7 linked regions of the Homo sapiens genome follow. The protein of the gene in region 7 purifies or fractionates together with the protein of the main gene of each other region. This does not show direct contact. Each region holds a gene or a part of one and is shown on either strand. Other genes may lie near its edges. The genes, in order: AP1S2, REEP2, SBDS, ENDOD1, ANKRD13C, MAP7D3 and CAV3.

Region 1 (3,500 bases), on a different chromosome or scaffold from region 7:
AGCAAAGAGAAATGCAAATACTGTTTAGTTTTGCTAACAAAAAAAACCTGGAAGTTTCTACAAAAAGTATAATTAGAAAACACTATCATTTGCTTGGCTACTTTTGCATTTAATGGACATGAGGTAAAAATATGAGCCAATTTGGAATTAAAATGTCATAATCTCATAGTCAACTCCTGATTATCTACACTAATGAAAAAGGGGGTTATCTTAAACAATTTGAAGCAATAGATGGAGAGTTCTCAACTTACTGCTACTTTCAGCCAATCTTTTCCCTTCTTCAAATAGTCTGTCCTCTAAAGGTTTAGACTCCAGTGTTTTAGGGTCCAAAAAGGGCCATTGGGAAGAGGCCTGACCGATAGACCATCTCCAAACTGAACCATCCATCCATAGATAACTGAGTTGACGTGACTGACACATATTCCAGTCAATAAACTGCACATGGATGGACACTACATGACAAGCATGCTTCAGAGTACTTTCTGAAACTGTAAGAATGATGAATGAGACTTCCCCAGCAAGAGCAAAACATGCTAGTGCCTAGTGAAGAGAATAAGTAGCTTACCTCCTGCAGTAGATCAGCCTGCTCAATTGCTTTAAGGACATTTTTCTTGGATGTTTCCTGAACTTCCCCTCCCAAAAGAAACTCATCCAAAATAAAATAAGCCTTCTCAAAATTAAAGATGATATCTAGTTCACAGACCTGAAAAGGAAAAAAAAAAGAAAAAAGAAAAGAAAAAATTGTTAAAACTTGCAGAAGCAGAAGATGCTTATTCACTATCAGGTAGTGAATAAAATCGAACTAGAGTGAATCAATCTTAACTCTTTCTAAAAATGACTAAGTATCACTGGTTTAAGTAAGCTTAATTTCCAAATCTCAAGTACTTGAAAACATATTCCTACAAGCTAAATAAGACTGGGCTCTGCATGTTCCCAATATGGACAACTTAATAATTTCTACTAATAAATAGTCATTCCCACCCTCTCCCGCGGTTAGAATCCCCAAGACAACCAAAAAATAAACTTGTTAGAGAAAAGGTTCCAAAATATACTATGGCATTCAATTTCCTAAAATAAAATACTACTCACACTGCCGAAATACTTGTCAAGTAATTCCACATAACGATGAATTATTTCCAGGGTAATTAGTTCATTGTCCTGATCCTCAATAGCACAGCAAAAATACAGACTAGCATATCTGTAACAAAGTACAAATGTGAAAAAAACTGTTATCCTATAATGATGTTTTCTAAATATATTTTCATATCCTATTATGAAAAGCCCCAAGTTTATACAGTTTATTTCTTCTTTCACGACAGTACAGATTTTTCTCATAGACTACAAAAGTAATAAACGCATAACAGAAATTTTGAAAAGCATAGGCAAGTATAAAGAAAAAATCAAAATAATCATACCACTTAGAATAAGTGATTTTGCCCTTCTTCCTTTCAGGTTCTTTTCTATAAGCATTTTAAAACATAGCAGACCCAGGTTTTTCCTAAGTTTACTTAATTAAAACAAAATATATAGCAGATTAATTCAAACTGTAAGTACAGAGAAGAAAACAAACCTTCCAACTGAAGGAGGACTTGTTGAGGATAATGCCAAGGTGAGGTCAATATTTTGGGATATTTTATTGGAATATGTATAATATATACACAGAGAAGACCTTAAGTCCTACAAGCTCAATAAATTTTCAAAGTGAACTCAACTATATATCAGCACCCACATCAAGAAGCTGAACACTACTGAACCCTGAAACTCCTCTGCTACCCTCTCCCAGTCACAACCTCCCACCCCCAAGGGTAACTATGCTCTTGACTTCTAACAGAATAGAATTGTTTTTAAAAAGGTTTCTAGGATTGCAGAATAAACCATACGAAAAGAACAACAGCTCCACGTTATTACAGAAGTTAGAGAAAGAGAACAGAAAGTTCCTATCACTTAAGGGAAACAGAGGCCTGTTCTCAAATTTACCAAGTTCTACACTGTTGAACTGAAGTGTAGTTTATTTACCCTAGAAGAGGGAATAAGGTTGGGAAACTTATATTCTCCTTCAAATTAGGATTCTAGCATATGGAATCATGTTATGCTTGACCCAAGGAAGCAAAACTTCAACCCTGAGGCATAGCAAGTCCTTTGAGGAGGATTAAAAGGGCATTTTAAAATGGTTTACATGTACTTAAGGCTTTTGAAAAGAAAGAAAATAAAAACCTAAGATAGGCTAAACACAGAACATTTCAGTGGAGATTATAATTTTCACTGAAGATCACTTAAATGATTTTTAGAAAACACAATGGGCAGTTACTGCTCGTAGCATTAATGTAAAATAATACTGTATACAGAATAACACAACCTGTTTTGAGACTCAATGAATTCTTGCTCCTTAGTATGAAAATAACTAGTATTCACACAACAGCATTAATTTCATTATTAAAACCATTTCATCTTATTTGATGTTTTCAACAGCAAGTACTATCTTTCATCCTTGATCACAGATTAAAAAAAGACAAAAAAAAAATGAGGCTTAAGAGTACAGCGCCTACAAGTGCTAGTACTGGGATAAGAAACCTGATCTTTTGACCTTAACTCCAGGCCTTTTTCCACTGTATCATACAAACTCACTTGGCATATATATCATGAGTTTGTGCATGTCTACTCTACCTGACTTCCACACTCAGTAAGTTATTTAAAATGGTGGAGCTACTGCAGTCTTATTGAGAGGAGGTATTCACATGTGTTCATTTATCATCATTGTGAAGGGAATAAGTCATGGAAGACAAAACAGGGCATCAATGCCAACTTTAACAAAGTGCTCCCTCTCTTTCCCATCGTTACTGTTTTTGTTTGTCTATTTAAAAGAGAATAGAGTATTCCAACTCTCCATCCTCCCTAACCCATGCTCATTAAATAGAACTTTGAATTTGAGGAAACTGATAAATGACACATAAGATTCCCTGATTTAAGAAAACTAAACATTAAAGGGACTGACATAAAAATGGTAGATTAAAAACCAGATATGACTAGCTGATAGGAACAGAATGCTAAATAATTTATTATACAAAGTTTACTAACAGTTTCAAGTAAAATTCCTTTTATTTAAGATTTCCTCATGCTACTATTAAACAAGCTAATGCTCGTACCATCCTCGCTCCTTATCCACAGTACTGCCTCTTTACTTACAAATAAAAAGCACTTAAACACTAGTCAAAGGTCCTAAACTGCATGAATCACTTGGAAGCATTAATTTAAAAATCATCAGAAACAATGTGTCTAAGCCCCAGCCAGTAATGTTTACTTTCACTCGGAATGGAAAAAGAATAATCAAATTAATGAATTCTTTGGTGTAGGTGAACAGATAGCTATCAGGATAATAATGTACCTCTTTCCAGAAAGCTTAGGGCAGGAAAAAAACAGAAACATAATAATTAAGTACCATTCACTGAATCCTCGCCCTACATGAGACATTAAATGTTAGCTAAGGCTTTTGCATATTTTAC
Region 2 (2,704 bases), on a different chromosome or scaffold from region 7:
CGATCTCCTATGGGATTGGAGGGGAAGGGAGAAGAGGAGAGGTCCTGCCCTACCCTTGTTCACCCCTGGACAGAGGCCCCTGCCTGCTCCGGGAGGCCACGGCAGCCCTGCCAAGTCACTTTGGGCTCTGGGCCCCACAGGGAGGGCCAGTCTGTATGAGGCTGCAGGCTCTGGACTGCCTTGGCTGGGGGCAGGCTGGGAGGTGAGCTGAGAGTGGGGGCAAACCTTCTCCTTGTTGGACAGCGTTGGGTGCACGAACTTGCGGTAGAGCACGCTGGAGCCCTTGGTGTAAGGGGACAGCAGCCATATCACGAAGGCGATCTTCAGTTCAAAGTAGAAGGGGAACCTGTTGGGACAGGGGCAAGCGCAGAGTACAGGGCAGGGAGTTGGGAGGTGCCCTGTGTCCAGCAGCACCGGCCCCATGTGTGACCCTGCACAGCCCCTCACTCTTAGTGCACTGGGGTCCCCATGGGGCTCATGGGACTGCTCCTTTCTAATCTGAAAGGGTCTGGAGGGCTCAGCTGAAGCTCCAAACAGGAAGGTAAGCAGTGACACTAGAAGGAATTTCCCCCAGCAGCGACTCTCCTGGCCTCATCCTCTCCCCAAGCCCCAGCCCTCTCACTCCTAGAGAAAACCCCCCTTCCTCTGCCCTAGGGTCAACACCAAGGGAAACTCTTGACTGTGCAGGCCTACACCTGGGTCTTCACTCCTTCCCTTTCTGCCCTCCCTATCATCGAGAGGCCTGGGACTTCTCTAGCTTGCTCTGGACCCTCCTGCCCCACCGTGACACGACCCTCACTTCTCCAGGATTGCCCTTCAGTCCCCATAGTGCCTTCTCCTCTGGTCACAAACTCCTTCAGGTCACCTATGTCCTCACAAAGTCTTCATCAAAGCTCTCTCTTTTGCTGTGTCAAGACACATGTATAGGCCTGGCACAGTGGCCTGTAATCTCCCAGCACTTTGGGAGCCAAGGTGGGAGGATCATCTGAGCCCAGGAGTTCAAGACCAGCCTGACAACACAGCAAAACCCCATCTCTACAAAAAATAAAAAATAAGCCAGGTGTGGTGGCGTGTGCCTGTGGTCCCAGCTACTCAGGAGGTTGAGGTGGGAGGATCACTTGAGCCCAGGAGGTAGAGGCTGCAGTGAGCCGAGATCACACCACTGCACTCCAACCTGAATGACAGAGTGAGATTCTATCTCAGAAAAAGAAAAAAAAGGCATCTATATTTACTACCCTCAGTTTTGTTTTTCACCTCACCACCCTTGCCCTACTCTCATCTTTTTTTTTTTTTTTTTTTTGAGACAGAGTCTCGTTCTTGTTGCCCAGGCCGGAGTGCAATGGCACAATCTTGGCTCACTGCAACCTCTGCCTCCTGGGTTCAAGCAATTCTTCTGCCTCAGCCTCCTGAGTAGTTGGGATTACAGGCATGTGCCACCACGCCCGGCTAATTTTGTATTTTTAGTAGATAAGGGGTTTCACCATGTTGGTCAGGCTGGTCTCGAACTCCTGACCTCAGGTGATCTGCCCCCCCTTGGCCTCCCAAAGTGCTGTGATTATGGGCATGAGCCACCGCACCTGGCCAATTTTTTTTTTAATAGGCAGGTCTTGCTATGTTGCCCAGGCTGATCTCAAACTCCTAGGCTCAAGTGATCCTCCTGCCTTGGCTTCCCAAAGTGCCAGGATTACAAGCAGGAGCCACCATGCCCGGCCTTTACCCTCAATTTTTTTTTTTTTGAGACTGAGTCTTGCTCTGTTGCCAGGCTGGAGTGCAGTGGCACGATCTCGGCTCACGGCAACCTCCGCCTCCTGGGTTCAAGCGATTCTCCTGTCTCAGCCTCCCAAGTAGCTGGGATTACAAGTAGGTGCCATAATACCTAGCTATTTTTTTTTTTTTTTTTGAGACAGAATCTCACCCTGTTGCCCAGACTGGAGTGCAGTGGCTCGATCTCGACTCACTGCAAGCTCCGCCTCCTGGGTTCACACCGTTCTCCTGCCTCAGCCTCCAGAGTAGCTGGGACTACAGACACCCGCCACCACGCCCGGCTAATTTTTTGTGTTTTGTTTTTTAGTAGAGATGGGGTTTCACCGTATTGGACAGGATGCTCTCCATCTCCTGACTTCATGATCCGCCCACCTCGGCCTCCCAAAGTGCTGGGATTACAGGTGTGAGCCACTGCGCCCTGCCATGCCTAGCTAATTTTTGTATTTTTAGTAGAGACGGGGTTTCACCGTGTTGGCCAGGATGGTCTCGATCTCCTGACCTCGTGATCTGCCTGCCTTGGCCTCCCAAAGTGCTGGGATTACAGGCGTGAGCCACCACACCCGGCCTTTACCCTCAATTTTTAACCCATCTCTCCATCTCTTTCCTCTTCTAAAACTATTTTTCTCAAATGCAAGGGTCTTATCTATAAATGTAATGATCTCTTGTCCTCTCCCCCTTGGTAAAATTCTCTTCTTGAGTTCCGATGAACTGTGTTATTAGTCCCCTCTTCCAAGAGGTATCTGATCATTCAGTAAACATTTTTGAGTTCCTGCTGTGAATATACAGATGATTAAGACATATTCCCTGTCCTCAAAGTGCTCATACATACGTAGTCTAGTACAGCCTGGAAAATGCCTTGGAAATGCAAGTATCCAGCATTTATAGGAGTGAATCATATGCCTATTTTACAAATAAGGAAACTGAGGCCTCGAGAGCTGTG
Region 3 (2,704 bases), on a different chromosome or scaffold from region 7:
TTTGAAAATTAAAAATGGTTTAAAGAGATGAGTCTGGGTGCCAAGTTGATAAGGGGTGGAATTGTGGATGTAATTTTAGGTGTCAACTTGACTGGAAAGGAATCCCTAGAAGCCTGATAAAGCATTGTTTGGGGTATGTCTGTGAGGGTGTTTCCAGAGGATATTAGTGTGTGAACCTGGTGACACTAAACACAGAACATTTTAAAGAAGCAGCGAAACCATTATGTCCTTATGACCTCACCCCACAGCTTCAAACACAGTGTAAATTGAGCTGTCTACAAATTCATGTTTTCAAGGCTTTGCAGCTTATTTATTTATTTATTTATTTATTTATTTTTGAGACAGGGTTTCACTCTTATTGCCCAAGCTAGAGTGCAATGGCGTGATCTCAGCTCACTGCAACCTCTGCCTCCCGGGTTCAAGCGATTCTCCTGCCTCAGCCTCCCGAGTAGCTGGGATTACAGGCATGTGCCACCTCGCCCAGCTAATTTTGTATTTTTAGTAGAGACGGGGTCTCTCCATGTTGGTCAGGCTGGTCTCGAACTCCCGACCTCAGGTGATCCACCCGCCTCGGCCTCCCAAAGTGCTGGGATTACAGGCTTGAGCCACCGCGCCCTGTCTGCAGCTTCTTTTTAAAAGTAAATGAGCTGTAGAGAAGTGTTGAGTATGTGAGTATCCACTGTAGATGTGAACTAACTCATCTGACACTACTTGAAGTTCTAAAATCTTTGCAAAACTGTACACATGGGCCAGGCACAGTGGCTCGTGCCTGTAATCCCAGCACTTTGGGAGGCCAAGGTGAGCAGATAACATGGTGAAACCCTATCTCTACTAAAAATACAAAAAATAAGCCAGGTGTGGTGGTGGGTTCCTGTAATCCCAGTTTCTTGGGAGGCTGAGGCAGGAGAATCACTTGAACCTGGGAGGCGGAGGCTGCAGTGAGCCAAGATCACACCACTGCACTCTATCTCAAAAAAAAATAAATTAACATACACATGGTGTCTACATAAGTCTTCACATTGCTTTTTCTCCTTCATACGTGGAGGTGACTTTACTGAGCTATAAAATGTAATGCTAAATTTTAGTATGAGAAGAATCAGAGTTTTCTAGTTTGTCCCTTCCATTTACAGCTGAAGAATCAGAATAAGTGTTTAAACATAGGGATTAATGCCTTGTCACAGGGGGCTACATGGACACTTGAGGGCAGAGGCTAAACTGGAACCCAGTGTGCCGCCCTACCCATTGTCTTATCTATTGCACCATAGAACTGTGGTATTATTAGAGATCTGGACAGCATTGTGCTTGCCTCAAAGGAAGTTAAAGCTGAGTTTATTCTGTGTCTTGCTCATCCTCATGTGGTAATCTGCTACGTTAAATGTTTCAGGTATGTCTGATTGACCCGGGCTGCTTCCGAGAAATTGATGAGCTAATAAAAAAGGAAACTAAAGGCAAAGGTTCTTTGGAAGTACTCAATCTGAAAGATGTAGAAGAAGGAGATGAGAAATTTGAATGACACCCATCAATCTCTTCACCTCTAAAACACTAAAGTGTTTCCGTTTCCGACGGCACTGTTTCATGTCTGTGGTCTGCCAAATACTTGCTTAAACTATTTGACATTTTCTATCTTTGTGTTAACAGTGGACACAGCAAGGCTTTCCTACATAAGTATAATAATGTGGGAATGATTTGGTTTTAATTATAAACTGGGGTCTAAATCCTAAAGCAAAATTGAAACTCCAAGATGCAAAGTCCAGAGTGGCATTTTGCTACTCTGTCTCATGCCTTGATAGCTTTCCAAAATGAAAGTTACTTGAGGCAGCTCTTGTGGGTGAAAAGTTATTTGTACAGTAGAGTAAGATTATTAGGGGTATGTCTATACAACAAAAGGGGGGGTCTTTCCTAAAAAAGAAAACATATGATGCTTCATTTCTACTTAATGGAACTTGTGTTCTGAGGGTCATTATGGTATCGTAATGTAAAGCTTGGATGATGTTCCTGATTATCTGAGAAACAGATATAGAAAAATTGTGCCGGACTTACCTTTCATTGAACATGCTGCCATAACTTAGATTATTCTTGGTTAAAAAATAAAAGTCACTTATTTCTAATTCTTAAAGTTTATAATATATATTAATATAGCTAAAATTGTATGTAATCAATAAAACCACTCTTATGTTTATTAAACTATGGCTTGTGTTTCTAGACAACTTCCTAACTCCCTTTCTTTTCTCTGCCTGTGTCTGTGGTAGGGTTAGGGAGTTGTCAGGAGAACTGAATAAGTCCATATGAAGAGTGCTTAGAACAGGGCCTGTACTTGTAAACACCTGAAAAATTTTTGCTAACACTTGGGATGTAATTGGGAAGAATTATTTTAGTATTTAAACACTTAAATGGACAAGATGCAAGCTTTTAAAAATCTACTTCAAGGCCAGGGGAGGTGACTCACACCTGCAATCCCAACACTTTGGGAGGCCGAGGCAGGCGGATCACCTGAGGTCAGGAGTTTGAGACCAGCCTGACCCACATGGTGAAACCCTGTCTCTACTAAAAATACAAAAATTAGCCAGGCATGGTGGTGCACGCCTGTAGTCCCAGCTACTCGGGAGGCTGAAGCAGGAGAATCACTTGAACCCAGGAGGCAGAGGTTGCAATGAGCTGAGAATGTGCCACTGCACTCCAGTCTAGGTGACAGAGTGAAACTCGG
Region 4 (3,500 bases), on a different chromosome or scaffold from region 7:
AGATAACAGCAAGCAGATTTCCTGAAACCAGTGCTGCCATCTCACAAACATAGAGGGAAGGCACATTTACCAAGCTGTGATAAAGTCGGTATAGGGACAAATGCAAGAACCTGCAAAGATGAAGGACTTTAACTTACTAAACAGTCATAAAGGAAAAAGGAATTTTGGCACGTTCAAGGAGGTATACGTTCTGAGTTAGAGCAAAGTCCCTCCTCTTGTCCCAAAGTAGGACTTACTGCATTACTGGGTTATTAAGTTTAAGTGTTCTGCTGGTCTTCCTTCCTGGGAGCCAAGCTGGCTGCAGAGAAGGAGCTCCTGAACAGACTAGGGCTGGATGATGGATGTGTGGGTCTGCCACCTCTGCTCAAGGAGCGGAGCTCTGGAGGGTGTAGTCGGCCTGGGCACCTCCTTCCCACCCCTAGGGACAGCTGGCATTGAGACAGGAGATGGGCTCTCCTCAGGCTCATGCACCACATCCAATCCAACAGCCTGTCTGGCAGCAATGTCTCCATACGCCCAGAGATGCAAGACTCTATCCCCTACCCTCTTATCTCCGCTACTCACTGAGATGCAGGGGACAAAATCTGTTGCTCAACAGAGTTAACACAGTTTTTGGGTGATCCATTTTTCCCAGCTCTAACCTGGTGCCTTATGGAAAATGTCTGCTTGCATAAGGATAATAGGAAGAGCTCAAGATGGATCAGTATAGAACAAGACTGTACAAGGGGGCAGAGCACCCTCGGCCCAATGGAGTACTTGCAATAACCCCACCCTTCCTATAGCCACAAAGGTACACCTGGAGGTGGTGAGCCTCTGATATTCATGGGCGTGTGACTGCCAGAGCTAGAAACACACCCTCTATAAAATCCTGGTAAATGAACATGTGAACTTTTAAAAGATAAACTTCATTCAAGAGCATTCAATAGGAGCTCACCCAACACATCAACAGGTTTGCAACAGAAGCAGTCCATGTGTGCTCTGGTGTCAGACAGCTCAGGTTCAAACCCGAGCCCCACCTCTTCTTAGCTGTGTAAAAATGCAATAGTAGTTTAACCTCTCTGGGCCTGTTTCCTCCTCTAAGAAGGATAATAATAGTACCTATTTCTGACGATGCTGAGGATTACATGAAATTACATGTGAAAAAAAAAACACTAGAAAAGTGCCTCCTGCCATATGATAAGCATCCAATGAGCTCTAGACTGTACTTACTTGAAGGTCAATTGAATACCTGAAGGTATCTCGCACTCAGAGTGCCCAAAACGGAGTACCTTTTCCTCCTACAGCTGTATCAAAGTATAACTGATATACAAAGAATTGTACATATTTAATGTGATGAATTAAATGTGCAATAAATATGTAATAACCCATCACATAATTAATGTGCTGGGTTTGGATGTATGCAAATACCCATGATACAATCACAACAACCAAGGAGGGAGACATGTCCAACACCTCCCATACTTTCCTTGTGTCCTTTTGTTTGTTTTGTGTGCGTATTAAGAAAACTTAATATGAAATCTACTCTCTTAACAAATTTTGAAGTGCACAATACAATATCATCAACTATAGGCATTACATTGTACAGCAGATCTCTAGAACTGATTTATCCCATGTAACTGAAACTTTATACCCATTAAACAAGAGCTCCTCATCTTCCCCACCCCTCAGCCCCTGGTAGCCACTATAGGTTGAGCATCTCAGATCTGAAAATCCAAAATCCAATATGTTCCAAAATCCAAAGCTTTTTGAGTACTGACATGACATTCAAAGGAAATGCTCATTAAAGCATTTCAGATTTCAGATTTCCAGATTTGGGAGGTTCAGCCACTAATTCCAAAATCCAAAAAAAAATCTTCAAACTGAAACACTTCTGGTCCCAAGCATTTCAGATTAGGGATACTCAACCAGTATTATATTCTTGCTCTTATGAACAAAAGCGAGTTCTTGATATGGCCCCCAAACAGCCCCTCCTTTTGTATCCTTGTCTTATTCATGACAACTCCATTCTTCTGATTATTCAGGCCCAAACCCTTGGAGTCATCTCTTCCCTTTCTCTCACTCCAAAGACTATGAGCTCTTTCTTCACAATATATCCAGAATATACAGTGCTATCATCTTGATCCAAGATACTACTGTCTTGTCAGATCACTGAAACCTCCTAACTGGTTTCTTTGCTTCTGCCCTTAACACCACATGTCTATTCTCAATGCAGCAGCCAAAATGGTCCTATTTAAATGTAAGCCAGATCACATCGAAGCTCTCTGCTCAGAACCCTGCACAATTGCTTCCCACTTCACACACAGTAAAACCCCAATATTTTACAAATAGCTCAGAAGAATCTAAATGATCTGCCGTCTCCTTCCCCACTTCTCTGACCTCATCTCCTGCTACTCTCATTTACTCTTCTCTAGCCAAACCAGCCTCTTAGTTCTTCCTCAACACACTCATGCCTCCAGGCCTTTGCAATTACCATTCCCTTTACCCAGAACGTTTTCCCCCTCTATAGATGCCTGCATAATTGGCTTTCTTACTTCTTTCATGTCTATACCCAAAAGTCAACTCCTCAGTGATCTCTTCCCTGGATGGAAACCTTGTTTTAAACTTCACCTTTTCCTTGATATCTCATAGCCTCCTTCCTTGCTTTTTCTCCTTAACACTTATCACTGTCTAATATGCCTTTTTTTTTTTTTTGAAACAGGGTCTTACTCTGTCCCCCAGACTGGAGTGCAGTGGCATGATCTCAGCTCACCACAGCCTCTACCTCCCAGGCCCAAATGATCCTCCCACCTTAGCCTCCATGAGTAGTTGGGACTACAGGTGCATGCCAGCACTCCTCGCTAATTTTTGTAGAGATGGGTTTTTGCCATGTTGCCCAGGCTGGTCTCGAACTCTTAGGCTCAAATGATCAGACCGCCTTGGCCTCCCAAAGTAGTGGGATTACAGGCATGAGCCACCATGCTTGGCACCTTGTCTTTTATTTATTTATTTTATAATCTATATTCTCTATTAGATATAAACCCTATGAGAGTAGGTATTTTTGTCTGTAACCACTGCTCTCTTTCCAGGACTTAGAATAGTGCCTCACACATAGCAGATGCTCAATAAAGATTTGTTGACTAAAATGAATTGACAGAGGGCTCAGGGCTTTCTTAAAGCATTAGGTGTCCCTGCCAACTGGAAGTCAATAAAAACTGAAGACCAATCAGCCCTTAAAGTATAAGTCAACTGAAACATGTAATTACATTTATATTTTCAAATAATATTTCAGCCATCTGTTTATTCTACAAAGTAAAATGTACCCGTATTTTCAGCTTTGATTAAAAATATAAACTACCCTCTGTTTGACCTTTTGATTGAGCCACACTTCTGTTCAGCACTAGGTCAATGAAGCATGACTGGAATATTAAACGGTGCTTCTATTCTTGGTTCAGCCTATGAGTCAGTTTCTTTTTCATTTCTCCTTCCTTTCAGTGGCCAAATAGATATATCGACAGGCAATG
Region 5 (3,500 bases), on a different chromosome or scaffold from region 7:
TGGCTCATGCCTGTAATCCTAGCACTTCGGGAGGTCAAGGCAGGTGGATCACTTGAGGTGAGGGGTTCAAGACCAGCCTGGCCTATATGGTGAAACCCCATCTCTACTAAAAATACAAAAATTAGCCAGGCGTAGTGGCTCGCACCTGTAATCCTAGCCACTCAGGAAGCTGAGGCAGGAGAATCACCTGAACCCAGGAGGCAGAGATTGCAGTGACCTGAGATCACACCACTGCACTCCATGACCCAAGATCACACCACTGCACTCCAGCCTGGGAAACAGAGCGACTCTATGTCTCAAGAAAACAAAACAAAACAAAAACCTCATAAATTAAAAAAAAATTTTTTTTCAATTGCTAATGAAAACCTAACAGGACTATGGAGCAAAAAGACAATAAGTGAAAGACTAATATGAATAATAAGATGTTAATAACATTGAGAGGGTCTCATTCAAGAAATGTGGTTTTACATATAATTAGTGTAAGATGTTAATGAGCCATATATTAGAGTTGTTAAAATCAAGGATTGCTAAGACACAAAATTGAGTTAGAATCCCAGCTCCAATACCTGGTAGTTGTGTGAATTTGGGCAAGTTACTTTCTATTATGTCAACTTAACTCACTTGCAAAATGGGAATTGGGCCACTAACTCATAGTTAAAAATTAATGGAGATAACGTATATAAAAAACTTAGTGCAGGTCAGGTGTGGTGCCTCATGCCTATAATCCTGGCACTTTGGGAGGCCAAGGCAGGTTGATCCCTTGAGCTCAGGAGTTTGAGACTAGCCTGGGCAGCATGGCAAAACCCCATCTCTACAAAAAATACAAAAAAAAAAAGTAGCCAGGCATGGTGGCACACATCTGTGGTCCCAGCTACTTGAAGGGCCAAGGTGGGAGGATTCCTTGAGCCCAGGACATGGAGGCTGCAGTGAGCCGAGATCATGCCACTGCACTCCGGCCTACAGGACAGAACATGACTCTGTCTCAAAAGAAATTAAAAAAGAGAGAGAGAGAGGGAAGCAGTAAATGGAGGAAAAGCTTTTTCTCTACCCTCCGTTTTCTGCCGAACTACAGAGTATAAATTTTGCTTCACTGGAGATAACTCTATACTCTTACTAGCCCAGTGACAGCACCAGAGGAATTTGCAAACAAACCTTACTCCTTTCCTGTCCTTGGAAACCTAAAATCACTTTCATTTGTCCTGTCATTTCTCTATAAATTTATTGTTCTTTGTTGAAGATGCTATATAAGTAGAGTTCTAAGCCACTATTTTGAGCTACTTTTTTTTTTTTTTTTTTTTTTTGAGACATAGTCTTGCTCTGTTACCCAGGCTGGAGTGCAGTGGCACAATCTCGGTTCACTGCAACCTCCGCCTCCCAGGTTCAAGCAATATTTCTGCCTCAGCCTCCTGAGTTGGGATTACAGGTGTGCATCATCAAGCCCAGCTAATTTTTGTATTTTTAATAGAGATGGGGTTTCACCATGTTGGCTGGGCTGGTCTCAAACTCCTGGCCTCAAGTGATCTGCCCAACTCAGCCTCCCAAAGTGCTGGGATTACAGGCATAAGCCACTGTGATCAGCCCTTGAGTTACTTTTCCTTGGGGTTTCTTGTGTGGTGTGCGGCACGCATTAATAAACTTGTTTGCTTTTCCCTTATAAATCTGTCTTTTGGTACGAGAGTCCATCTCAACTAAGAACTAAGTTTGGAAGAGGTAAAGTTTAGTTTCCCTTATGGTATAATGGAGGCCAAAAGAAAAGACTGTTTCAATATCACACTACAGAGACTTTGAAGAGAAAGAAGCCTGAAAAAGCCATAAATTTTGTTGGTTAGAAGTCATTGATGATCTCTGAGTAGCAGCCGAGGGATGTGGAAAGAAAGGAAACAGAGTTTTTTAGTATCAGGCAAGATGAAAGACAATGTTCTTTCCTTGAGAAGCTTATCAAGAGACACAAAAAGTAAATACTTATAATTGAGGGTGACAGGGGCTATGATATAATTGAGGGTGACAGGGGCTACAGAATGATATAAACATGCACAGAAGAGGTTTATGACAGACTAGGGTAGCCAAAAGACGTGGACTGGTTGACTCCTGAATTGAGGAGTCTAAAAAAGAACAAAAGAACTGGTTGAAGGAACTGGGGAAAGCAGAATGGTGAGAGAAAGCATGACATACTGGGAAATTGCAAGTGTAGTGTGTCTAGTTGTATGAGTAGTATACATGAAGATTAGTAGTAAGAGAAAAGTGGCCAGACACAGAAGAGAAAAAGTAGCCTGAAAGGGTTTTACATATGAAGTAGATCACATTTTACTCAGGAAGCAATGGACAAATATTTTGAGCAATACAATATAGTAGCTAAAACACCAACTGTGGAGCCAGAGTGATCCAATTCTGGCTTCGACAATGACTAGCTGACTTCAAACAAATTACTCAACCTCTTTTGCCTCAGTTCTGTCAACTATATAACCTCAGAGGGTTTACTGTGATGATAAAAATGGGCTGTTAAATGTAAAGTGCTTAAAATAGTGCCTCACGCATAGCAAGTACTGTATACATTTTAGTTACTGAGCATAGCCATTACATGATTCAATCTATTTCAGGGTGATTACTCTGGTGGCAGTGTATTTAGGAAGCTATCTCAGTAATCCAAATGAGAAATGATAAGGGCATGTTGTTTAAAAATGGAAGGACAGAAAATAGACTAAATAGACTCAAGAGATCCTTAGGATTTTGTGATTGATCAGATATAGAGATAACAGGAAAGCTAAGAAGTCTAAGAAGAAATTTCAGGTTGCCAGCTGGGGTAAATAAGGAGATAATGGTGTTACTACCTAAGACAGAGAAAAGAGGAAGGAGGGAAGAAAGCATTATCTGATTTAGACACACTAAATTTTAGACATCTATGTTTATCCAAGTAGAGGTAGGCAAAAGCACTATAGATGTGGTGATATGACGGAAGAATAGAGTTAAAGGTATATATCTGGTTGACAGTTACCAGTGTTTATGTACTCACTGATGAGATGTCAGAGATTGCTAGTTGTCTCCCCAGTATCTGTTCTCCCATTAGTCTTTGTGAAAGAACCTCTCTTCCAAATTTTTGGATGAGCACATGACTTCCTAGAATAGACTCCTTTTCTAGAAATCCTTGCAGCTAGGTGTTATCATGTGACTAAATTCTTTTTTTTTTTTTTTTTTTTTTTTGAGACAGGGTCTTGCTCTGTCACCTACACTGGAGTGCAGTAACTCAATCACACCAAACTGCAGCCATGACCTCCTGGACTCAAGTGATCCTCCCACCCCAGCCTCCTGAGGAGCTGGGACTACAGATGCATGCCACCATGTTCAGCTTGTTTTTACTTTTTTTTTGTAGAGACAGAGTCTCACTATGTTGCCCAGGCTGGTCTTGAACTCCTGAGCTCAAGCAATCCTCCCACCTTGGCCTCCCAAAGTGCTGGGATTACAGGCATGAGTCACCATGCCCGGGTTAAATTCTAACCAATGGA
Region 6 (3,500 bases), on a different chromosome or scaffold from region 7:
CTTTGCCATGTCTTTTGATTTCTTAATGACCCTGAGAGTATTTAAATAATTGTTAGTATTTATCTTGATTGCTATCATACTCAGCTTGCACTAGTGAGTTTTTATAGTGAAACTTCCTGTGTATAGTAATATAATTTATATCCACACCAGAGTCACTACATCTTCTGTGTTGTTACTATATAGGAATTACACAATTCCACCCCTTTTTAAAGAGAAAAACTAGCCCTCGGGAGCAGAAAAATATTTCAATCAAGTAATAGATTACTTTGCTTGTTAAAAAACACACATACGTGAGAGGAACTCATTCCTTAACTGTCTTTGAGACATGACATCCCCTAAAAGGCCTTCTTTACACGTGCTCACACCCAATCTCTCGTGGGGGTAACAGAGATAATTTAGAGGAGAGTCTGGTGGTTCCCTAGTATTCAGCACTTTCAAATGCTAAATCAGCTCTGTTTATATGAAGCGATGAATAATATTCTTCAAGTTAGAGGTTTTTTTTGTAATTCATAATATTCCCTTCTTTTTCCCAAGCCCATATAAGCATATGGAAAATGTGTGATTATTTCAAATAACACTAAATACTTAAAAGCAAATTCAGTACTGTTGTTATTCCCTGCAGCCAGTGGACAGAGGTTTACATTATAAGGCCCGACATAAAATAGTCCTCAAGATGGAGGAACAAGAAACCTTTGCTAGAATTTGAATGCACACAACTGTACATGAGATTTGCTGCCCACAAAGGAAATCCTTCTAGCAATGACTCACTGGCCTGATGAGACACAGGTGTCACAAAGATCACAGAAAAAGTAAAACATGAGTAAGTATAATTTTCAGGTTTAAAAATCCTGATGTTACAAGTCTTTTAAATAAAGGGCTGACACTAGTGAACACGAACTGATCTGTTCTTATATACCACTCTGGTGCTGAGAGATCAAATCCTGAATGTGAGTTTGGTCTCTGTGCATCCTCCTAGCACACCTTAATGGCACATGATGTATGGAGGCTAAAAAGGACTGTGCCATTTATCCACATACCAGGGTCCTTAGCCATTTACAAGGGCTTGAAATGCTTCCTATGCAGGCAATGAGGCACTTCTGATCCTCACTGAAGAAAGTCAATTGTTCTTTGAGAATTTATAACTTGAGGGTAAAATTTTGACTTTCAAAAATTTGGGCCCCACTCAAGATTTATAGTATAGGAAGGAAGACTTTGTGCTGACCTTTGCTGCATTTCTTCCCGTTGTCTTTCTTCTTCCTCTTTTTCTCTTTGTTCACGAGCAAGGCGGCGCAATTCTGTCAAAATTTTTGTTGCCGCCTCGGCATTCATAATACCTGCAGTACTCTTATTACCAGACTCTAGTTTAAATAAATATGTGCAACAGTTAAGAGAGCTAATCAACTCTCACTCCAACAAAGAAGTGCAACACAATCCAAAACATTAAAATATATATATATGTGCGTAGTCCAAAATTTATAAATCACAAGCAAACTATAGGTGATTATCTAACAGATTTTGTTCAAACTGCACCCCCAACAACAGCAGAAGCATTTTGTTTCTTTTTAACACCTACTTGTTCCAAAATGAAATAATGTACTTCTACTTTCGTTTTAGTGGTTTTGAGATAACTGAATCAACTGACCCCATGGGAAAAGAGTAAGAAATACTGAATATAGAGGAAGACAAGCTTATGCTCGGTCCAAACAAAGGGTACAAATATCTTAAATACTCAAACAAATATGTATCTGGTATACATTTGAGATCTGTGCATCATTTTTACTATATGATTACTATTTAGCTAAACCTTGATAATAGTGTATACATTTGGTTGATCATAGAGTAGCTAACTGTAGATAACAAAACCAAGACTATCAGTAAAATAAGGTGAGTACACAGAGGCATATGATGATATTTTGGTCTATATAACTACTAATTTATTTTAAATAAATCATATGAAAATGAGAAGACATATCAGGAATGAATAATCTGTAATTAAAAGATTGTTTCTGTTACAAAAAATTCACTGTGGAATTCCGTAAAAGAGCAAAATTCCCCAGTGTGTTTTTGAAATTAAGTAATGTCCATGGGTATTAAGAATGCACGTAACAGGCAAAATAGCAATATGGCACTTTCAGGAATACTACACAAATCAAGGGACACCACATTATGGCCTATATATAAAAACGAACCTAAATCTTAGGAAAAACCTGCTCATCCACGAGTGGATGTGCTCTCTCCAAGAACCATCACTATCAGAGCTAGAAGGGATCTCAGGAATCACCTAGACCAAACCTCTCATCCGACCTGTGCTTTTTTTTGATATGGGGTCTCGCTCTCTCATCCAGACTAGAGTGTAAAGGCACTATCACGGCTCACTGCAGCCTCCACCTCCTGGTCTCAGGCAATCCTCCTACCTCAGCCTCCCTACTAGCTGGGACTACAGATGTGTACCACCTTAAGCTAGGTGGTTATGGTATAATATGGCTTACTCTTATCCTCAACCCCCTAACCGAATATATAGCCTACCCTTTCCACATCGGGCTAATTTTTTTTTTTGTGTGTGTATATATATATATATATATATATATATATATTTTTTTTTTTTTTGTAGAAACAGGGGTCTCTCTCCTATGTTGCCTGGGCTGGTCTCAAACTCCTTGGCTCAAGCAATCCTCTCACCTCAGCCTCCCAAAGTGCTGGGATTATAGGCGTGAGCTACCATGCTTGGCCAGACCTATGCTTTTAAAAGCAGTTCCAAAAATGGATTTTTCAAAACAAAGGGGTGAGAAGAAAGCTTTGGCAAGGACAAACAAACAGAGAAGATACATTCCAATGTACCAGAGATTGGTTAGATTCTCTCTTTCTAAAAGGAAAATAATTCCCTAAAGTTCTCTCAATTGGGGAATAAAATGAAGTGAACCTTTCCCAGAATACAGTAAGATTTTCTGTGTTGCTAAGATAAACTTCTTAGTGAAAGAACTTACCTTCATAGATCATATGCCTTTGGCTCAAAGCCTCACATCTGTTAGTGGTTTTAGAAACTGTTTCTTTTTTCTTTTTGACAGTACTTGATGCACTTTGCACAGACAGGGTGTGTTGAATAGGCATTATTTTATAAGGAAAAGAAGTCTGTGGTGACTGTTTTGAAATAAGTGGTAATGGTGATGGAGGGCAGTTCTTTTGGATTTGCCTGCTGAGAAAAAGTAATACACATTTGCTAATTAATTTTCAGTGTACAATTTCATAAAATATAAGATGCTATTATGAGATGACATTATAATCAGGGAATTTTTCTGAAAAATAAATCCCTTTTTACAGGCTTTTTTCCCTTTACATTTGTGTTACCATGCATACTATATTATTTCACTCATCAAACATTGACATGGAATTTGTTCTAGTAAAACGCCTATCAGGAACAGTTGCGAATAAGCTGCTTACTTAGTGCTGATGGGAGACGGCAGACCACAAGCATTTTCAGGAGATGATGACCATTTATAACA
Region 7 (3,457 bases):
GCAACTAGGAGCGGAAGCAGGACTAGAACCAAGGCTGCCTGCGTCCTAGTTCCCAAGCTGTGTGTGGTCCACTTCACCACACTGCCTCCCAAGACCACTGGGCTCGTGGCCAGGCATGAATAATGTCTCCGAAAACCTGACAAGTGCTGTGGAACTTTAATTATATGAGACTTAAATGGGCGTTGCATGAAAAGAAAAAAAGAAAAAAAAAAGGTCAGATAGGATTGGGGGGATACTGGTTTAAACAGGTTTATCTACTGCAGGACATGTCAGAGCCTTTAATGTGCCAAAGTCTATTGAAAATCTCTGAGAGAAATATACAGCATTTCTGAAAGAACCGGACCACAGATGCTAACACCCATCCCCATCCTTTCTTTTTTAATGGCTAAGTTCTGGATAGCACACTCGGAAAAGACAGCCCTAAAGAAGATAAGGGCACTGTGTGTGTGTGTGTGTGTGAGAGAGAGAGAGAGTGTGAGGAGGGAGGAAGTGATACATGCTCTTTCTACTGCATTTTATTTCCATAGTGAGTCCACACACGCACAAATTAGACCTTGTTCCTTCGTCACATCTCCTGAGGGCGAAGGTACCCTCATGTCAAATGGCAGTACTGGGCATTTCAGGGGCTCGGTTAGCCAAAGGGGAGGTTCCGGGAGGCTTGAACCCAGGCCCTTCCCTCAGTGGTACCCTGGAAGGGTCACTGCCCCTGCCAGCCCAAGGGTCATTTTCCTCCATTGGTGCCCATTTTTGTGCTCAGGCAACAGGAGTCACTTAAACATGATCTTCCAAGGAACGTGTACGGTTCCAGCAAACAATAGAATCCGAAGAAGAAAAAGACTCTGTTCTTCACTTACATTTGGCCAAGTGAAGAGACAACCAACTCTCCCTGTGTCTGTTTTTCAGGGCAGTGAAGTATATTTTTGGAGCTGGTCAGGACACAAACCAATCTTACAGGCACGAACAAAATGCAGCATTCCCCAAATGCAGCCAAAACCCTTTACTGGAGCCACCTTCCTAACGCCAGTGGTCACTGGTCACTTTCCTGAGTGCGCGTGGAGAGGTTGGCCCCGGGTGGGAACCGCGTGCTGGTTTATGTTGTTACAGTACAAGTGAACGCAAAGACTTGCAGTAGCTGCCTCTTGGCAAATGATCTTCCCCCACGCCCAGGCATGGGGGCATCATGGTGGGGCTGGGGGAGAGCGAAGGGCCATTGTGCTTCTGTGGCTGGGCCGTCTTTTCTTTCTGGCTTCCCTACACCGTGTGCTCCATCATGGGGTATGGAGCAGTCCCTAAAGAGAAAGAGCTCGCCAGCAGCCCCTGTGAAGAAGTCCCCCGGGGACCAGTCTGGCCCACCACCCCCTGCCCTGCCACCGCTGTTGCCCCACCTGGCTTTAGACCTCCTTCCGCAGCACCACCTTGATGCTGCTGCAGACCTGGCCCAGGGCCGCGAAGAGTGGGTTGCAGAAGGTGCGGATGCAGAGTGAGTAGATGTGGCTGATGCACTGGATCTCGATCAGGTAGCTCTTAATGCATGGCACCACCGCCCAGATGTGGCAGAAGGAGATGCAGGCGAACAGGAAGCCCCAGAGCAGGGCCAGTGGGACGCCCAGCAGCGTGGACAACAGACGGTAGCACCAGTACTTGGAGACAGTGAAGGTGGTGTAGCTCACCTTCCACACGCCGTCAAAGCTGTAGGTGCCCACAGGCTCTGCGATCACGTCTTCAAAATCCACCTGCAGGGGTGGCAAGGGGAAGCCTCAACTCACAGAAGCCACCCGCTTCTCAAGCTTTTGGGTGTGTGCGTGCATGTGTCAGAATCCCCTAGAGGTCAGGTTAACCTTGGTGGCTGGACCCTACCTGTATTAGGCTATTCTTGCATTGCTTTAAAGACATACCTGAGGCTGGGTAATTGATAAAGAAAGGAGGTTTAATTGGCCCATGGGTCTGTGATCTGTGCAGGAATCATGGTGCTGGCATCTGCTTGGCTTCAGGTGAGGCCGCAGGGAGCTTTCAACCATGGCTAGAGAAGGGAGAGCAGGCGTCTCCCCTGGTGAGAGTGGGAGCAAGAGAGAGAGCTGGGCAGGGGGTGGAGTGCCACACTTTACAACAACCAGATCTTATGAGAACTCTCCCACTATTGTGAGGACAGCACTAAGCCACGAGGGATCTGCCTCTGTGATCCGATCACCTCCCACCCGGCCCCACCTCCAATATTGGAGATTATGTTTCACCATGAGGTTTAGAGGGGACACAGATCCAGACCATATCATCGCCCCAGGGATTCCGACTCCCCAAGTCTGGAGTGGGGCCTAAGGCTCTGTATTTCTAACAAGCTCCCTGTTGAGCCCAAGCTGCTGCTGTTCCTAGGCACCGCTGACCAACACAACACGCTCGTTCAACCCCCTCAAGGTGAGCGACTTGCTTAAAGCCAACAGTGACTTAGTGGCAGTGCTATAGTCGCAGCTCTCAAATTCTATTGTTTTATGATCTGAAGGGTGTTGGACGGTCGTATGCATCCTACAGCAATTTACTGAGCACCTGTGGATTGGATGGTGAACAGGCAGAGGTTCCTCACATCGCTTACCTAAGCTCTCTCGAGCCCTGCTATGCATGAAGCACCTTCCTAGCTGCCTACACATGGGTGATGTCACTTAGCATCACTAAGCCTCAGCTGTCTTGTCTGTAAGATGGAGTCAATGAACGTCTTCCAGTGGTATCATGAGGATGAAAGGATGGGAGGCTGTAAAATCCACTGGTCCACAGTGAAACCCTGTCTCTACTAAAAATACAAAAAAAAAAAAAAAAAAAAAAAATTAGCCGGGTATGGCAGCGGGTGTCTGTAGTCCCAGCTACTTGGGAGGCTGAGGAAGGAGAACGGCATAAACCCGGGAGGCGGGGCTTGCAGTGAGCCGAGATTGTGCCACTGCACTCCAGCCTGGGTGACAGAGCGAGACTCCATCTCAAAAAAAAAAAAAAAAAAAAATTCCACTGGTCAATTAAACAGCAGTGAACCAAATTAGCTGCTTCATGACTGGTCTCCCCATGGTTGTTACCAGTACAGCCCGCCAAGTGGGAGGTTGCAGAGCTGTTTGCTAATGCCTGAAACTGTTCTGAGATGTTTTCTTTCTAGCAGTGCTCCTGGGCCATTCAAATTAAAAGGGGGTGGATGCAGGTACAGACTAATCAGATCAACAGGAGGGGCCTGTGTGGTGGCCTGCAGGGCTGAGGCTCCAACTTCAATCTTCCTGGTTAGTTAGTCCCTTTCCCGCCTTGGTTATGGGGAGGGGATCCTCTCCTCTATTGCATCACCAATATTAAAATTACTTTCATTATAAAAAAAATGGCCATATCACAGAGAATTAACAGAATAGAAAAAAGAAAAGAGTCTTGGGTTTGTACTTCTCTATTACTAAAGATATGATTGTTTTGGTGCATTTCTTTCCAGTACAATATTTTC

What was found.
Region 1: the proteins of CAV3 (region 7) and AP1S2 purify together in Homo sapiens (affinity purification with mass spectrometry; 2 studies listed by BioGRID and IntAct, with this or other methods). This does not show direct contact.
Region 2: the proteins of CAV3 (region 7) and REEP2 purify together in Homo sapiens (affinity purification with mass spectrometry; 2 studies listed by BioGRID and IntAct, with this or other methods). This does not show direct contact.
Region 3: the proteins of CAV3 (region 7) and SBDS purify together in Homo sapiens (affinity purification with mass spectrometry; 2 studies listed by BioGRID and IntAct, with this or other methods). This does not show direct contact.
Region 4: the proteins of CAV3 (region 7) and ENDOD1 purify together in Homo sapiens (affinity purification with mass spectrometry; 2 studies listed by BioGRID and IntAct, with this or other methods). This does not show direct contact.
Region 5: the proteins of CAV3 (region 7) and ANKRD13C purify together in Homo sapiens (affinity purification with mass spectrometry; 2 studies listed by BioGRID and IntAct, with this or other methods). This does not show direct contact.
Region 6: the proteins of CAV3 (region 7) and MAP7D3 purify together in Homo sapiens (affinity purification with mass spectrometry; 2 studies listed by BioGRID and IntAct, with this or other methods). This does not show direct contact.

Annotation. Positions count from the first base shown.
Region 1 is NC_000023.11:15,844,814-15,848,313, forward strand, and holds part of AP1S2 (AP-1 complex subunit sigma-2), read right to left. Parts: intron 1,199-3,500; coding exon 1,090-1,198; intron 704-1,089; coding exon 566-703; intron 1-565. UniProt on the Homo sapiens protein: Subunit of clathrin-associated adaptor protein complex 1 that plays a role in protein sorting in the late-Golgi/trans-Golgi network (TGN) and/or endosomes.
Region 2 is NC_000005.10:138,442,057-138,444,760, reverse strand, and holds part of REEP2 (receptor expression-enhancing protein 2), read right to left. Parts: intron 347-2,704; coding exon 226-346; intron 8-225; coding exon 1-7. UniProt on the Homo sapiens protein: Required for endoplasmic reticulum (ER) network formation, shaping and remodeling. May enhance the cell surface expression of odorant receptors.
Region 3 is NC_000007.14:66,987,180-66,989,883, reverse strand, and holds the end of SBDS (ribosome maturation protein SBDS), read left to right. Parts: intron 1-1,384; coding exon 1,385-1,513; 3' UTR 1,514-2,204; downstream 2,205-2,704. UniProt on the Homo sapiens protein: Required for the assembly of mature ribosomes and ribosome biogenesis.
Region 4 is NC_000011.10:95,096,346-95,099,845, reverse strand, and holds part of ENDOD1 (endonuclease domain-containing 1 protein precursor), read right to left. Parts: intron 1-3,500. UniProt on the Homo sapiens protein: May act as a DNase and a RNase. Plays a role in the modulation of innate immune signaling through the cGAS-STING pathway by interacting with RNF26.
Region 5 is NC_000001.11:70,278,223-70,281,722, forward strand, and holds part of ANKRD13C (ankyrin repeat domain-containing protein 13C), read right to left. Parts: intron 1-3,500. UniProt on the Homo sapiens protein: Acts as a molecular chaperone for G protein-coupled receptors, regulating their biogenesis and exit from the ER.
Region 6 is NC_000023.11:136,227,401-136,230,900, forward strand, and holds part of MAP7D3 (MAP7 domain-containing protein 3), read right to left. Parts: coding exon 3,439-3,500; intron 3,194-3,438; coding exon 2,985-3,193; intron 1,359-2,984; coding exon 1,223-1,358; intron 32-1,222; coding exon 1-31. UniProt on the Homo sapiens protein: Promotes the assembly and stability of microtubules.
Region 7 is NC_000003.12:8,743,802-8,747,258, reverse strand, and holds the end of CAV3 (caveolin-3), read right to left. Parts: intron 1,734-3,457; coding exon 1,392-1,733; 3' UTR 501-1,391; downstream 1-500. UniProt on the Homo sapiens protein: May act as a scaffolding protein within caveolar membranes. Interacts directly with G-protein alpha subunits and can functionally regulate their activity. May also regulate voltage-gated potassium channels.